Linked DNA regions of Homo sapiens: region 1 is linked to region 2. A link means that fine-mapping ties the variant in region 2 to the expression of a gene that starts in the linked region. Tissue or cell type: whole blood. Region 2 holds a variant in brackets; the other region holds the start of a gene. All regions are shown on one strand. Distances are from middle to middle.

The links. PIP is the estimated chance that this variant, and not a neighbour inherited with it, causes the effect.
Region 1: it holds the start of CD82, and the variant in region 2 is fine-mapped to the expression of CD82 in whole blood (TOPMed, PIP above 0.99). The same link has a PIP of 0.9 or more in monocytes after R848.

The regions. Positions count from the first base shown.
Region 1 is chr11:44,560,696-44,568,870 of GRCh38, forward strand. CD82 (CD82 molecule) reads left to right here and starts at 4,968. Exons shown (of 10, transcript NM_002231.4): 1 at 4,968-5,041. RefSeq lists enhancers at 1,140-1,641, 1,642-2,141, 4,981-5,481, 5,987-6,056 and a silencer at 4,467-5,066.
Region 2 is chr11:44,587,080-44,595,254 of GRCh38, forward strand. CD82 (CD82 molecule) reads left to right here. Exons shown (of 10, transcript NM_002231.4): 2 at 396-477; 3 at 7,564-7,646. The coding sequence starts at 7,584. Among named protein-coding and RNA genes, the nearest start is that of CD82-AS1, 14 kb to the right of the region's middle. The variant G/A (reference allele first, on the strand shown) is at 5,091.

The sequences.
Region 1 (8,175 bases), 26 kb before region 2:
GATGCAAAGGAAGTGATCCTATATGACTTCTAAGGCTAGGTCACAAAATGCCATGCACTTCTAAGTGAGTCTTTGTTCTTCAAAACCGGCAGCCAAATTATGAAGAAGCTCAAGCAACCTGTGGAGCAGCCTCATGGAGAGGACCAAAGGCCTCCACAGCTCTGGCTGACCTCCCAGCTGGCAGCAAGTGCCAACTTGCTAGGTGTGTGAGTACACCATCTTGAAAATGGATCCCCAACCTCCAATTGAACCACCTGACATTGCGTAGAGCAGAGATAAGCCGTTGCTGCTGAGCCCACCCCAAACTGCAGATTTATGGGCAAAATAAATGAGTGGGATGGTTTGTTACATAACAGTAGGAAACAGATACCCGCACTCATTCTCTTTACCTTCCTCCACCAGAGATGTGCAAAAGTCTTGGGGCCTTAACCTAGGCCCAGACACTAACAGGGAACTGGCCCCCATGTTCTTGCCTACAAGTTCTTTGAAGTCTCCTGCTCAGCTGTTCATCTTCCACCTTTGGGGTGGGGGAATCTTCTGAGAGCCTGGCAATCCTATAGCCATACCTCTCTGAGGTCTTGCCACACCACCGTCTTCCCCATCTCCAAGTTGGCCATGGATATCTTCTCTCAAGGCTTTCTAGGGTGGTTCTTCTCACCCCTTTTCCCACCTCCAGAACTCCTGGCTCCACCTCTAGAATGGACTAGAGGTAGAGTCTCACTAGAAGTGTCTGCGCTTTCTGCCTGGCAAAATGCCCAAGGTGAGTCATGACAAAGCTTGCCTTCTGCTGGAAGAGAGGGGATAGGGACAATGCTGAGGGAGCCAACCCAATGTGATATTTCAGTGAATGACTCTGCTATGGTTTGAATGTATTGGAAACTGAATCCCCAAATTCATATGTTGATGGTATTTGGGGGTAGGGCCTTTGGGAGGATTAGATAAGGTCATCAGGATGGGGCCCTCATGATGAGGACTGGTAGCTTTATAATAGGATGAAGAGAGACCTGCGGTGGCATGCCCTTGCCCTCTCACCATGTGATGAGTCAGTAAGAAGGCTTTCACCAGATGTAGCCTCTCAACCTTGGAATTCCCAGGCTGCAGAACTATACAAAATAAAATTCTTTTATCGATTACCCAGCCTATGGTATTGTGTTATAGCAACAGAAAATGGACTAAGTTAGACTCAGATGCACATCTACTCAACAACTGTCCCTTAAGCTTCCAGGCATGTGCTAGAAGCTGGGGAGACAAGGCCAAATGGCAATGTCACCATAGACCTGGACAAGAGGGCACCTGTGGCCACCCAGAGCCCACACCTGACCTTGATCATGCTTTGGGTGTTTAAAAACCTAGACTGCCTATCCAGCCCAAGCCAGTTTTTTTGTTTTGTTTTGTTTTGTTTTGTTTTGTTTTGTTTTGTTTTTTGAGACAGGGTCTTGCTCTGTTGCCCAGCTGGAGTGCAGTGGTGCAATCTCAGCTTACCGCAACCTCCGCCTCCCTGGCTCAAGCGATCCTCCCACCTCAGCCTCCCGAGTAGCTGGGACCACAGGCACACGCCACCACACCCAGCTAATTTTTGTAGTTTTTGTAGAGACAGGGTTTCATCCTGTTGCCCAGGCTGGTCTTGAGCCCCTGAGCTCTTTAATCCTCCTGCCTCAGCCTCCCAAAGGGCTGGGATTTCAGGTGTGAGCCACTGTGCTCAGCCCCCCAGCCAGTTTTAAGGTTTACAAAGCTGCCTGCCCAGGTCCATCCTCCTGAGGGTACATCCTGTCCCTGGAATGTGCATTCATAGAGAGGTGACGAAGAGGTGGCTGTAGGCAAGGCGTGTGGGCAAAGTTTGGGTGTGTGGGCTGGAGTATCCACATGCCTGAGTCCTAGGCCACTTGTGACACAAGACAGAGATGGAGTGTGAAGAGAAGTGGAGTGGGTGGGCTGAGGGCTAGGGCCAGGCTATCCTCCCGCACTGCCATGTTCTTGCATAAAATTCTAAAGAGTCCAAGAATGCTAAATTTGAACATGGTCTTCCTGGTCATTAGAAAGAACATTTGTCAAGGCAGGAGAATACACATTTTATTTCACAGTCAGTTAAATGTTTAGATACAAGGTATCTGGTCCTTGATTTGCACTCTTAACTTGGGCTCTCCATGTTCGGGCAGGTCAGCATAACAGGACCAGTGCCCAGGCCCTGCACTCCTACAGGGAGACACTCTTCTGTGGGACTCAGACAATGACAGGGAGTATGGCAGAGATTCTAGAAGCTGCCTGAAGACTGCTCTCAATGTCACCACAGCTGCCTCTATCTCTAATCAGGAGTGGCAGGGCAGCAAGGGATAGCAGATGGGACTAATATGAGAGAATGTCTTCATGGGGGGAGGGGACAGTGAGGGGATCCAGCTGTTTTGCCAATGGCCAGTTCCCATCTGTCTGCTGGAGCCCTATTAACTTCAGTAGGGATGGTACTAGGTTCAAGAGGCTGAAGGAGAGACCAGAGCCAGCAACTGGGACATGGGGTTTTATTGGGAAACTTACACACAGGGACGGCCGGTGGCAGTGGGCTGGACAGGAGAACTGTACAGTCCCATGGCAGGCTGGGCAGGAGAGCCACAACCGCTTACAAAAAGCATGCAGTTTATACATCACTCTCACTTAGCACCCTCCCCCTAACAACCCCCACCTGATAACCTTCATTTGGCCCCAAACAAAGAGCTTTGAACCCCTGTACACCCTGCATTCCACAGGATGGGCCGGGGTTCAAATGTTCCTCACAGATAAGGAATGAATCTCCAGGTTGGTCATTCCCGGATTCCTTAGCTCAAAACTCCAAACACACATTGGGGTGCATCTGCCATACAGGACCATTCTCAGGGTATGCTTAAGTCAAGTTATTGCTGTCAGGAGCATCTGCCATACACCATCACAAACACCCCCAGCTCGGAGGGAGCGGGGTGTGGAGTAGGGTGGAATAGGAGGAATTTTATGCCCATTTTGCATGGGCTGGGTAGGGTAGGGATCTGAAACCCAGCCCAAGACAGAATGGCACAGTGGTTCTCAAAGTGTGGTCCCCGGACCAGCATCCACATCATCTAGGAGCTTGTTAGGATCTTAACCACTTGCAGGATAGAGGGTGTCTCTCTGCGGGTATGACACACTGCTGGGTTTAAAGGATTCTCCAGCCTCACTTTTCTGACTTGGTGTGGGAATGCTATGAAGGAGACTTTTTGCTGAAAAGAGAACATTTTCTGAGCATGTACGGCATTCAAGCGGTGGGCCAAATACTTTATGAATGCTGTCACATGTAATCTTCAACAGCTACCATCAAGATCGGTATGATTGTTATGGCTCATTTTATTATTATTCCCTGTTTAAGGGCTCATCCCAGAGGTTAAGTATCTTGCCTTGTCCTGGGTTTAAAACGCAACCAGGAAGCTACCTAGGTCTGTGTGATTCTCAGACCACCCTGACTTCTTTACAGTTTGCTCAACAGTGGTTCATGCTTGAATGTGATTCAGAATCACCTGGAGGCCTTATTAAAACCAATTGTCCCACAGTTTTCCATTCAGTAAGTTGGGATGGGGCTTCAAAATACGCACTCCTAACAAGTTCCCAGATGATGTTGCTCCTGGTTCAAGGACCACGCTGTGAGAACTACAGTGCTGGGCTGGGATCCAGCTCCCGCCCTTACTCCACTCGTACAAAGCGCTCATAATCATACCCTCCCACAACGGTGTGTTGTGAGAGGACATTGTGATAATGGAAGTGAAAGAGCTTTGTCAGCTGCACAGGTGAATGCCCCTGGTCATTAACCAGGTAATCTGCCTGAGGCTAGTCCTCTGGAGCCTGGGAGGGCAGAGGGCTGGGACGCAGGGTGGGCACCGCAGCCACCTAGAGAGCTCTTGCAGCCCACCTCAATTTTGGGCCACTTTTTCTTCAGGGAGAAAGCCAGCTTTGAGGGCTTAGGCCCACAGCCCCTCCTGCCACTATTCTCATCAACCCACACCTCCTCCCTCACCTCAGGCAGCTGCTGGGCACTGCCCCAGCACTGGTTGTTCTGGGCTACTTCCCCAGGGGCCAGTCCAGGCAAGCTGGGGCAGCTCAAGCCTGTGACTCAGGACCTGAGGCTGGATCCCGCTCACGCCCGCCTCCATGAGATTCAGAGCCCTCGACTTCCCTTCTCTGAGCCTTAAACTGCGCATTAGTAAAATAGGCGCAACGAGAGTACCCATGAGTTGTGGGAATTCAAGGGCTAGAACTGTATTCAGCGCTTGGCATAGAGCCTGGCCCCTGGCAAGGATTCAATCAATGGTAGTCAGTATTTTCAAAAAGTTCCTGGGCCCAGGCCGCCTCCTGATAGAGGCCCCGACTTAGGACACAAACCGCTCCCACGCCGTTCCCCGGCGGCACCCGGATACACCCGCCCTGGAATGCCAGCGTGGGGGCCCCAGGGCTACCCGCCCGAGATGAGAGGGGCAGGGCAGGGCAGGATTAGGAAGGCGCTGAGCCCAGGCTGGTGCGGGGAGGGGCGTGGCCTCACCCTACTAGGGCCGGGGGATGGGGTGGGCTCGAAGGAGAAAGTGAAGGAGGCGGGGGCGCTGGGAGGGCCCGGGAGGAGACCGGGAGGACGAGGTAGGCGGGAGCTGGGCGGGACCGTTAGGCAGCGCCGTGAGTGGACAGGGCTGGAGCGGGGCGGGCTTAATCCCCAGTGTAACCTGGGGGCGGGGCTGCCGGGATAGAGGAGAGACTCCGTAGCGGGGCGGGGCCTCAGCTCCAGCTGGGCCCGGGGGCGAGGCTGGTTGGGGTACGGCCATAGTGGGCGGGGCCTGGCCGGCGGGAGCGCACCGCCTTCCCAAAGGGCTCGGGGGCGGGGCCGGCGGAGGGGGCGTGTCTTCTGGGGGCGGGGCCTGCCGAGTCCGCGGCGTTCCCCGGCTGCAGCCGGGAGGGGGCCGAGGAGTGACTGAGCCCCGGGCTGTGCAGTCCGACGCCGACTGAGGCACGAGCGGGTGACGCTGGGCCTGCAGCGCGGAGCAGAAAGCAGAACCCGCAGGTGAGCAAGGGGGCAGCGGGCCGGGGTAGCCTGCCGGACAACCATAGGCAAAGTTAGTTTTAGCCCCCGCTTCTGCGGTCCGGCTCGGACAACTTTCCTCGGAACTAGTGACAGGTCGGGGCAGCTGGTGGGTGAAAAGGAGCTTTAGCCACCAGTCCTGAACCCCCAGTTCTCACACTCGGCCGTGCACAGCTGCGTGATCCTGGGTCCGTCCCTCTACCTGGCTCTGGACCTCCCGGGTTCCAGCAGGAGGAAGTGAACCAGGTGAATTCCACGCTCCCGTTGCCCTTTCTCACTTAAAACGCCGGAAGGTGAGAGCTGGCAGGTGAGAGCAGGCTGCAGGTCGCCACAGGTGTTCCCATCGCGTTGCCCTCTGCAGTTTCTCTCCCTGCAAAATGGGACTGAGAGAAGCGAATTGCTTTAAAGAGTGCACTGTTTCCTCGGTTGGGGCTCGAACCCACCAACCCTGGGGAAGAGGAGGCCAAAGCAGGGAGGTTCCATTTCCCGCCTCACCTGCTTCCCACCAATTCTAACAGTTCAACTGAGCCGGACCCCCTAAGACTTCAAGTTGGAAACTCAGTGGGGCTTTTCCAGGTGAGCTGGCCTGAGCAGGAGGTTGGAAACTGGGGAACAGTTCTTACACTGGTGAGTGGGGAAGAGAAGGGAAAACCCCACCAATCCTTGGGCCCAGGGTCAAGCCCAGGGCCCCAGGGGCCCTTGAAGCATACCCGGGGTTAATTTCTTGGCTGACGGGTTCTGTTCCTGGAGGTGGTGGGTGCTCTGTGCTGGGCCCCAGTAGCGGGGCAGCATAGTTCTGTGGTCAAGGCTTGGGCTTTGGGATCAAACTGATTTGGATTCCATTCCCCCTCCAAACTTCAGTTTCCTCACCTGTAAAATGGGGATAATGACAATATCCAATAGCAGGAGCAAGCACTAAATAGAATAATGTGTATACACTACTTAGCAAGGTGCCAGGAAACCAGTGAGACCTCCCTCTGTGACAGCTGCTTTGATGCGGGTGGGCAGGTGATGGGCTTGCTTCCTATGGGGAATGAGCCTTTTTTTTTTCTTGGAGAGATGGGGTTGGCTACAGCCCCTCCTGACCTTGTGAAAGCCAGAAATTGCCACCTGCCACCAACATCACTCTATTTGAGGGATGAGGACTGTGTCATCTGGAACAAAGAGTGGCTGAGTTTTCTGTAATGTTGCTTGAGGTTGGTAAGTGTTGAGTTAAATAAGTCTAAAAATGTTTACTGAGCACCTACTATATGCTAGAGAGAGCTAGAGGATACAGAGGTGAACTAGCCAGGCCTGAGTTGCTGACAATGAGGGCTCCCCCATCCCTACCATGTCCCTGTAGAGAGGATCAGTCACACCCAGGGCTTATAACCAGATGAGATTTCATGGGTCTGTTCTGCCCTGGTGGCTGGAATCCAGCTATACCATTGCACACTTGGCTTGGGATGGGGGCGAGGGGCAATGTGGGCACCCGATATCTAAGCAGGGTTGGACACTGAAGGACGCTGAAGGTGCTGCATTATATTGGCTCCCTGCATCTTCTGGGAGATAAGCTGTACAGTATGGAACAAACTGGAAAGTGCTGTGGGACAGAGACGGACTGGCGGCTGCGCTGTGTGCAGGAGACTGTGTGTGTATGTAGGGCAGGGGGAGGTGTTCAGAAGAGTGAGACACTTGAGAAGCCAGGGCAGGGGGTGGGGGTAAGGAGGCTTCCTGGAGGGGGTGAGACTTGAATAGGACTTTCTCTCTGGGCTCCTGGTCCTGGTTTGGCTTGGATCAACATGGGACCACAGTCTCTTCAAGCACTGAAGTGGCATAAATTGGAGTTTGGTATGGTGGGGAGGGAGAGGGTCTGGTAGGTGGTGCCTGAGGTGGGGAGGAGGAGACGTTCATTTCAACAGAGCCTACCTAGTGAGCCTTAATGGAAAGCCCTCCCCACCACCACCCCCACTTCCTGCTCGATGAATGACAAGCGACCACATAAGGCCTGCACCCTCAGGTTGCTTACCATCCGGGAAGGGGCTTACACAAGAATACCAGGGACTCTGATGGAAGATAAATGAAAAAAGGATTAGAGGGATCTTCAGGGCCTTACAGACTGGGAAGATTTCGGCAGCCAGAATGAAGATAGTGTCTTGAGGAGAGGAAAATGCCTAGGCAGAGGCAGGGAGGTCAACCTGTCCTGAGAATTCTCGAGAAACCTCTAGGTTGCTCATTCTGGCTGAAGTTTGGGAACGTGTGGGGATATGCAGTGGGAATAGTAGGTGGGATCAGCTTACGGAGGGCCTTGAATGACAGGATAAGAACTTTGGATCTGATTTGCAGAAAGTGGGAGCCACTGAAGGTTTCTGAGGAGAGGAGTGACACAACAGAGCAGCACTTTAGGAAAGTCAGTCTGTACCAGATGTGCTGGGGTGGAGGATCCAGCGGTCAAGGGATAATGAACCAATGGCTGCAGTGACTGGGAAGAAGGGGTCTGGGTGGCTTTGGGGATGTCTGCAACTGGGAGTGAAGGAAGAGACACCAGCCACAGGGAGAGCAAAGGCACCATTGGAGGGGTGGGAGGGGACTGTTCCAGCACATTTGCACTTCTTTCTCCTCCCTATCCTGTCTGGTACATAGCAGGGTCTCAGGAAGGTGGCTGGATTGGGTGAGTGGCGGGGTTGCTGGGAGGGTGATGAATGCTACAGAGGGGTTTGCCCATGAAGGGGAGGCATCTGGGCCGAAAGGTGGGAGCCTGTGCCAGCCAGCAGTAAGTTTGGGGGTCGGGGGCGGGATGGTTAGAAGAAGTGCCTGCTGATCCCTCCCTCCCATCCCAGCCCAGGGAGGATAGGGGTGAGAGGTCAGCCATGTGCTATCTCTGGCAGTGGGTGAGCAGTCAGGGCACAAGTTTCCCACAGTAGGGGGACTGGGGCAGGATTTTGGCTTCCCTGGGCTCCTCTGAAGTTTCCGCTATGTGGGGGCGGCCCCCTCTGTCTTGAGGCCTCACGCTTTAGAGCCACAGCCTGGAAGCTCCCACCGGCCATCCCCTTCCACCCTGGGGACCCAAACCTGTTCCCCTAAGGACCAGACAGTCCTCCCTCAACCCATGGCTGAGCAGCCCCAAGTTCTGAGTG
Region 2 (8,175 bases):
GGCAGGGGGCCTGGGCATGGCCTATGTTGATTGTAATGAGGAGCTGGAGTTGAGGCCTTCTGAATAGATTGGGTGTTTAGGGAGGGCCTTTGGGAGGAGGGATGTCAGCCTTCTGAGCCAAGGCTTGTGGGAAAATACGGGAAAAGAGTAATTCTGGCAGAGAAACCCTTTTGCAAAGGCCCTCAGGTAGGTATAAGGACCTGGGGCCTGATATACCAGGACAACAGGAAAGAGGCTACATGAGCCTGTGGGGGGAAGAGGACAGAGGAATGGCAACCCTGGCGGGGCCCCGCCGGCCACACGGGGAGCCTGGATTTAAAGTGAGTATGTCTTCAGCCACATTGCCTTTGGAGAGTCACAGACAGGAGTGACGAGATCTGGGTCGTGTTTTTCAGAGTCCTCCCTGCTGCTGTGTGGACGACACGTGGGCACAGGCAGAAGTGGGCCCTGTGACCAGCTGCACTGGTTTCGTGGAAGGTAAGTCCTGGGCTGAGAGGAGTGGTGGGTTGGAGGGGACACACTTGGGCTGTGAGGCGAGGAAGGTGGAGACCGAGCATGGCCCTCAGGTGTTCAGTCTGAGCCACCAGGTGGGTGGAGGGACCACTTCTTCCCCTTCTCTGGCTCCTACAGCATTTAGAGTCCTGGAGTGCTGGTCCCTGGGGAGGCTCGGCAGCAGGTCCTGGCATTCAGAGCTGGCCCAGGGTTGAGCACCTGACACACCCCCAACCTGCCCTGCGGGCAAGGACAGAAGAGGCCTGAGAACCGTCTCTTCGGACTCAGGGGCAGTGGAACTCAGACTGCCTTCAGGTGGCCGAGAACTTGAAAGCCCTGGTGTTCTTTGTGGCAGTCCCTCCATCTGTCTGTCCATCCATCCATCCACCTACCTACCCCTCCATCCCTGCATCCACCCAGTCTTTCATGCAGCAATATTTGTTGGGAGTCTGCCTTGTTCTCGTAAATAACAGTCTTCCCGTCAAGGTATCACAGTCCTCAGGGGAAAGGGACAGGTAAGTAGAAAGTGACTGCACAGCATGCGTTATAGGAACTGCCGTCTATCCACAGCAGACCATGTGGCAGGCATTTTGCCCTAATTTAATGTCTGGACAAATCTGCAAAGTAGGATTTTGGGGTTTTTTTTTTGTTTTTTGTTTTTTGTTTTTTTTAGGTGGAGTCTCACTCTGTCACCCAGGCTGGAGTGCAGAGGTGCGATCTTGGCTCACTGCCACCTCCACCTCCTGGGTTCAAGCAATTCCTCTTCCTCAGCCTCCCAAGTAGCCGGGACTGCAGGCACCCGCCACCATGCCCAGCTAAGTTTTGTATTTTTAATAGAGATGGGGTTTCACCATGTTGGCCAGGCTGGTCTCGAACTCCTGACCTCGTGATCCGCCCGCCTCGACCTCCCAAAGTGCTGGGGTTACAGGCTTGAGCCACCGTACCCAGCCTGCAAAATAAGTTTTATCTTTGTCATTTCACCAATGAGTAAAGTGAGGCTCAGAGAGGTTAAGTCACTTGTCCAAGGTCACACAGCTAGGAGGCATTAGAACTGCATTCAAATCCAAGGCAGCCTGATGCCAGAGCCTGTTCAGGGAGCTGCTCTAGTCTCCAGTGCCACTGGAAGGAAGGAGAGAGGGAGTGCCCCTAACCAACATGTGTCTTGGGGGTCAGAGGGTGGCAGTGGTAGTGATGAAAAAGCTGGCTGGAGTAGGAAGTTTCCTGGAGGTGGTGATTTTGGAGGTGAGTGTTAAATGATAAGTAGAAGTTGGCAAAATATTAATATAATAATTTTATTATACAAACTGATTTGGCATAAAATGATATATTTCGTCAATTAAAATTGTAGTTGCTCAGAAATGGTCAATTTACCTGGTGTCAAGTATAACATAAGATCAGCACCTCACCAGGAACGGTGGCTCACGCCTATAATCCCAGCACTTTGGGAGGCCTAGGCAGGTGTATCACCTGAGGTTAAGAGTTCAAGACCAGCCTGGCCAACACGGCAAAACCCTGTCTCTATTAATACACAAAAGTTAGCCGGGCATGATGGCACATGCCTGTAATCCCAGCTACTCTGGAGGCTGAAGCAGGAGAATCACTTGACCCTAGGAGACGGAGGTTGCCATGAGCCAAGATTGTGCCACTGCACTCCAGCCTGGGTGACAGAGCAAGAGCAAGAGTGCCTCAAAACAACCACCACCACCATAACAAAGATCAGTACCTCCATCCTGCTGCTCACAGCTCTCTGTGACTGTTCTGGAAGTTTCCCATTAAGATGTGCTTGCATCTCATTCCCTTGAATTGTCAGTGTTTTTAACACAGGAAAGCTTGGGCAGACTCTCCAATGTTTACCAAAAGTATACACAAGAAAGCATAACATTGGAGGACATTCTTTTGGCTTAAGATCATCTGTAAATTAAATCCTCATCCCTTGCTGCTTCTGCAAGCACTGAGCCAACTGATGATGATGATACAGACACCAGCCCCAGCTCCGGGTCATTGAGTCCTGACTGTACCAGGCGCTGACCTCACTCCCTCTTTAGGACGGGAGTCCAGTTGGGAGTTCCACTCCCCAAGGAGATGAATGAGGCCCAGGAAGTCCCTCCTCTGTGGCCACACATTGGCAAAGCCAGGATTTGAACCCTTGTTCAGGGATCCTGTGTCTTCTCTCTCTAAGTCACAATCAATTCCTGCCACCCAGCTGGCTGTTTTCTTTCTCCAAAGTTCCCGTGCTAAGGGTAGTCGTGACCCTTGCTGCCTCTTCGTTTTGTTTTTTTTGAGACGGGGTCTCGCTCTGTCGCCCAGGCTGGAGTGCAGTGGCGCGATCTCGGCTCACTGCAAGTTCCACCTCCTGGGTTTACACCATTCTCCTGCCTCAGCCTCCCAAGTAGCTGGGACTACAGGCGCCCGCCACCACGCCTGGCTAATTTTTTGTATTTTTAGTAGAGACAGGGTTTCACCGTATTAGTCAGGATGGTCTCGATCTCCTCACCTCGTGATCTGCCTGCCTCAGCCTCCCAAAGTGCTGGGATTACAGGTGTGAGCCACCGCGCCTGGCGACCCTTGCTGCCTCTTACAGACACTTGTGGGTGCGCCATTTGATCCTCTACACCAGGGGCCAGCAGGCTTTTTCTGTAAAGGGCCAGATAGACCAGTAGGCATGGCTGTGTGCAGAAATTTAGATTCCATGTAATTTTCATGCATTAAAGAATCTTTTTATTTTTCTTTTAACTATTTAAAAATATGAAATCTGGGCCGGGCACAGTGGCTCACGTCTGTAATCCCAGCACTTTAGGAGGCCGAGGCAGGTGGATCACGAGGTCAGGAGATCGAGACCATCCTGGCTAACACAGTGAAACCCGTCTCTACTAAAAATACAAAAACAAAATTATTCAGGCATGGTGGCGGGCGCCTGTAGTCCCAGCTACTTGGGAGGCTGAGGCAGGAGAATGGCGTGAACCCAGGAGGCGGAGCTTGCAGTGAGCCAAGATTGTGCCTCTGCCCTCCAGCCTGGGCAACAGAGGGAGATTCTGTCTCAAAAAAAAAAAAAAAAAAAAGATGAAATCTGTTCTTAGCTCAGAAGCTGTATAAAAAACAGGCAGGGGGCTGGATTTGGTCTGCAGGCTGCAGTTTACCAACCCTGGTTCCACACCAACCCTTATTTCTGTCTCATGGATGGCAGACTGAGGCTCAGCTCTCAGTATGGGAGGGCAGAGCCGGGCATAACCCCTGGCACTCTGAATTCAACCTCGGGGGCTCCTTGGAGCTTGGTGGTGGTTGTGGATTCCTTGAAGTTGATGCCACAGCCCATCGTGGGTGACCTGGGTGTGTCCCCGCCTCAGGCTGAGCTGACTTCCTTGCCTGTGTGGGATTGCCCATCTCCCGCTGAGTGTGGAGAATGTTCTTCACCCTCTGCTCCCTGTCAGTTTGAGGCAGAAGCATCTGCACTTGCAGGGCAGGAAGACTTTGTCTTCTGGATCTTGGCCAGTGTGCCTGGGAGCTGCCCATCCCAGGTTCCAGTTATCAGCACCTTCTCCTCCCTCGGGTGATGTCCAGATACCTCTGGGTCTGTCCCACTTGACTGGGCTGCCTGGCTCTCATTTCAGCCTCTGGACCCACCCAGCTGCCTCCTGTGTGGGATGGAGCCCATGGGTGGTGTAAGGGGCCAGGCAGCCTGGGCCCTGTCCTTGCCAGTCCTCCTACTTGAGACCTTGGGCAGGCTCCTTCTCCCCTCTGTGCCTCTGTTTGCATGTAGAGGGCTGAAGAGCTTAGCCCAGTGCCTGATACAATCTGTGTGCGTGACCAAGGGACCAGCCAAGCTTGCCCAGGGTCTGGAATATCATGGGAATACCAGCCCAGCCACGTCTGCCTTGGTGACAAGGTTTCCCAGCCTCCTCCTTGCCCTCTGAGCAGAGCTCCTCTGAGCAGTCATTTTGTCCTCACACCTAACTGGACAAAGGAAACCCAGCCGTCCCCAAAGATCCCTTTATAATCCTGGCTACTGTCCAGGAGGGACCACTTCACAGAAGAAAGATCTTGGGGTCTGAAAACCACTGCCACTTATGACCTGTGTGACTTGGGCAAGTTACTGAACCTGTCTGAGCCTCTGGTCTGCCAGGGATAGGAATACTCACTTCCTGGGCTGGTTGTGAGGATGATGGGGGATGATGTCTGAACATGGCCACTTGTAGTAGTTGCTATTCCCTGGCGGCCACTCCTTCTCCTTACAGACGTCATACTTACTCTTATTTTTGTTTTTATTTTTTTTGAGACAAAGTCTCTGTTGCCCAGGCTGGAGTGCAGTGGCGCAATCTCAGCTCACTGCAACCTCCACCTCCTGGGTTCAAGCGATTCTTGTGCCTCAGCCTCCTGAGTAGCTGGGATTACAGGCACCCACCCCCACGCCTGGCTAATTTTGTATTTTTAGTAGAGATGGGGTTTCACCATGTTGGCCAGGCTGGTCTCGAACTCCTGACCTCAGGTCTTCTGCCAGTCTCGGCCTCCCAAAGTGCTGGGATTACAGGCATGAGATACCGTGCCCGGCCTATACTTATTCTTTTCTAAAAGCTGCCCTTTGCTGAATGCCCCACCGTGAG[G/A]CTGAGCAGAGGATGTGTGAGCTGGAAAGTGTAGAAACCCCTTTCCCGGACTTTCTGAAACTGCAACACCGTGGATCTGACTCAGGGTTGCCAAAGAACTCTTTCCACACTTCTGCAATTTCACAAGGATGCCAATGGCCCCATTGCCAAGACGCATAGTTTGTTGGCGGACTGCAGTTAGTGGATGTTCTTCTGGTGAAGGGGTGGCCTAGCTACTGCTGCTTGGGCGCTGAACCTGGTTGGTCTCTTGGGGCATGCCCCGTATTGTTTACTGGGAGGAGACCTGGTCAGGCTGAAACACAGCAGATCCGTGGTAGGAAAGAAGAACAGATGCCGCCTGGCTTTGGGAGAGAATCTCTCTTCTCTTGCTGTTTAGTTCCTGGAGTCTGTGAAGTGCCTGTGGTATGTCAGGCTCTGTGCTGGGAGGTGAGAGAGAGGAAAAACAATAGCTATCCTTGATGTAGTGCAGACTCCCAGGAGGCCTTCCTAGGCCAGGACGGGGTTTGGGCATTGAAGATCTCTGGCTTCCTGGGCACGGGGAAGTCATGTTTTCTCCTCTCTAGGTCTGGGGAGTTGCCCAGGTTGCACTGCCCTGGCTCCCGAGTCACTGCCATCTCTGCAATTCTCAGACCCAGGCCTTGGAGCCCCCTAGACTGGAAGAGCCATTTAGTCTAATCTCCCTACATAGCACTTAAATCCCCCAGGAGTATTTTTTTAGACTTTGCTTCCATGCCGCTTGTGATGGGAAGCTCACTACCACCCAGGCAGCTTTTTCCTAACTTGGGCAGCTTTGCTTCATATTATACCTCCCAAATCTGCCCTTTAAAAAGGCACTTAAAGAAAACTTCCTGTAACAAAGCTGTTAGAGGAAAGAAAACTGGACTGGACCCCTTGGGAGGTCATGAACCCTCCTCATTAGCCACCTTCCCCATCACCGGAGGTGTGTGAAGTGGAAGCTGAGCTCCCACTTGACAAGGAGGATGGAAGATTGTTGATCGTTAGCATGTCCAGAAAAGAGTAGGGAACCTGTGTGTAGCCGGGGAAATTGAAGACTTTCAAGTGGTGCTGGAGGAAGAAGGAGTGAAGCCCGGGCCTCCGGCTTTCCTTTCCCTTTGCTCTGTGGCCTGCCCTTCCCCCTCCATAAGGCAGGGAAACACAAGTGGGCCTGGTGCCGTCCCCTCCACCCCCCCAGCCCAGCTCTGCCCATGCAGCTGTCCCAGGCCAGCTGTCCAGGCCCCAGCTGCCCGGCGGTGCTGGCTCCCTTTGCCCCAAAGGGTCTGAAGGCTGGCGGCTGGCACTCCTGGATTTTCTGGCCTCTGAGTCAGGGTGAGAACAGTCAGCTTCCAGCTTCCCTCTTCCTCCCGGGGCCCTCCCCTCACCTGGGGTCTTTTGGAGTGGAGGGGGCACAGCATGCCCAAGCATGGTTTGTGTCATTTCAGAAGCACAACTTGTGTCATCGGGGAGACTGTGAAAACTTGGAAACAACCTGTGTGTCCAATCTTAGAGTATCAGTTAAATGCTTTTATGGGATGGCCACATCTGAGACTTTAACCTGGGGCCACTGGGGTTCCTGAATGGGTTTCAGAGGTCCATGAACTCCCAGAAATTATTAGCATCACAAAATGCTAACTACACATGAATTTTTTGGGGGACTCTGTGAGCCCCCAAATGTTAATAAGTACTAATAGGATGGAATCCTATGCAACATGTGAAACTATGAAGAGCATTTTATCAACATATAGAGAGTGAAGATTGTAGAATGAAAAAAACAGGCTAGAAAACACTATACAGAATGAGCCCAATTTTGATTAGAACCATTTGTTATACACACACACACACACACACACGAATAATAGCTACTAAAACGATGACAGTTTTTAATCTCTGGAGTGAGATACATTTTGCTTGATTTCTGTTTTTCTGTATTTGTTGGGTGTTCTACAATGCATGTTTATTCCCTTTGTAATAAGAAGCTGGGACGCTCAGCCTATTTTCTGAGAAGCCAAAATTCCCCTTCTCGCCTTGGCAGACCCCACAACTCCCAGCCCCTAGTCCCAGAGGGAGTCTGTGGAACAAGCACAGGTCTCACCTCTGGGTCTCTGTCAATGGATCACTAACTTCCCGGCCCCCTGACTTCAAACAGAGTCCATCTGTGCAAGTTCCAGAGCCTGGGTCATGGAGGTGAGGGGTGAGGGTCTCCCTCTGTCATTTTGCTCCCACCAGCCCCAGCCCCAGCCCCAGCCCCAGTGCAGTGGCTGATCCGGATCCTAACTGCCAAGCATCAAGTGCCTGGCACACAAGACTGCTCGTGGGACCTCATTTCCTAGCTGTGTGGCTTTGGGCTAGTTGTCTAACCTCTCTGGGCCTCTGCATCCTCTAAGGCAGGGACAGGGTTAGTACCCACCTCCTGGGGTTGCTGCAAGGGCAGACTGAGCTGATCCCCTCACTGGCCTGCCTGCCTTCTCTCTTCCAGGAAGCTCCAGGACTGGCGGGATGGGCTCAGCCTGTATCAAAGTCACCAAATACTTTCTCTTCCTCTTCAACTTGATCTTCTTTGTAAGTATGTCCCATGCCGTCCTGACCACCTCCGAAAAGATTCTCCTTCCAGGGGCATCCCAGCCTGAGCCTTTCCAGAGCCGACCGGGCCGGGGATTGGGGGGATTTGGTGGGTAGGGACTGAGGACGAACTATCTCCAACGGAACCTAGTTGGGGTGGTGAGGAGATTCCCTGCCATTCCCAGCTGGTCCTTTGACCAAGCACTGGATTCCTGACCCGGCCTTCCCCTCTCCTAGATCACCCAAAGCCTGGGCTGGCGGTGGGTATGGGGAAGGAGAGGAGAGCCCCTGGGCATCCCCCTAACTCAACAGCAGGAGCTGCTAGAAGAAGCCTCTTAGCATCTCTCTAGTCCTGTCCTGGCCCCCACCCTGCCCATGTGAAGAATTGACCTGTGACAGTTCCAGGCCCCAGTTGCCCCTATCACACCCCCGTCCCTGTCGTGGGAAGGTATCTCCCTGAGCTCTCATAGGGAGAGCAAGAGGGCGCCAGGCGTGGGGCCAGTGAAGGGCACATACCTCCTTCCCCAGA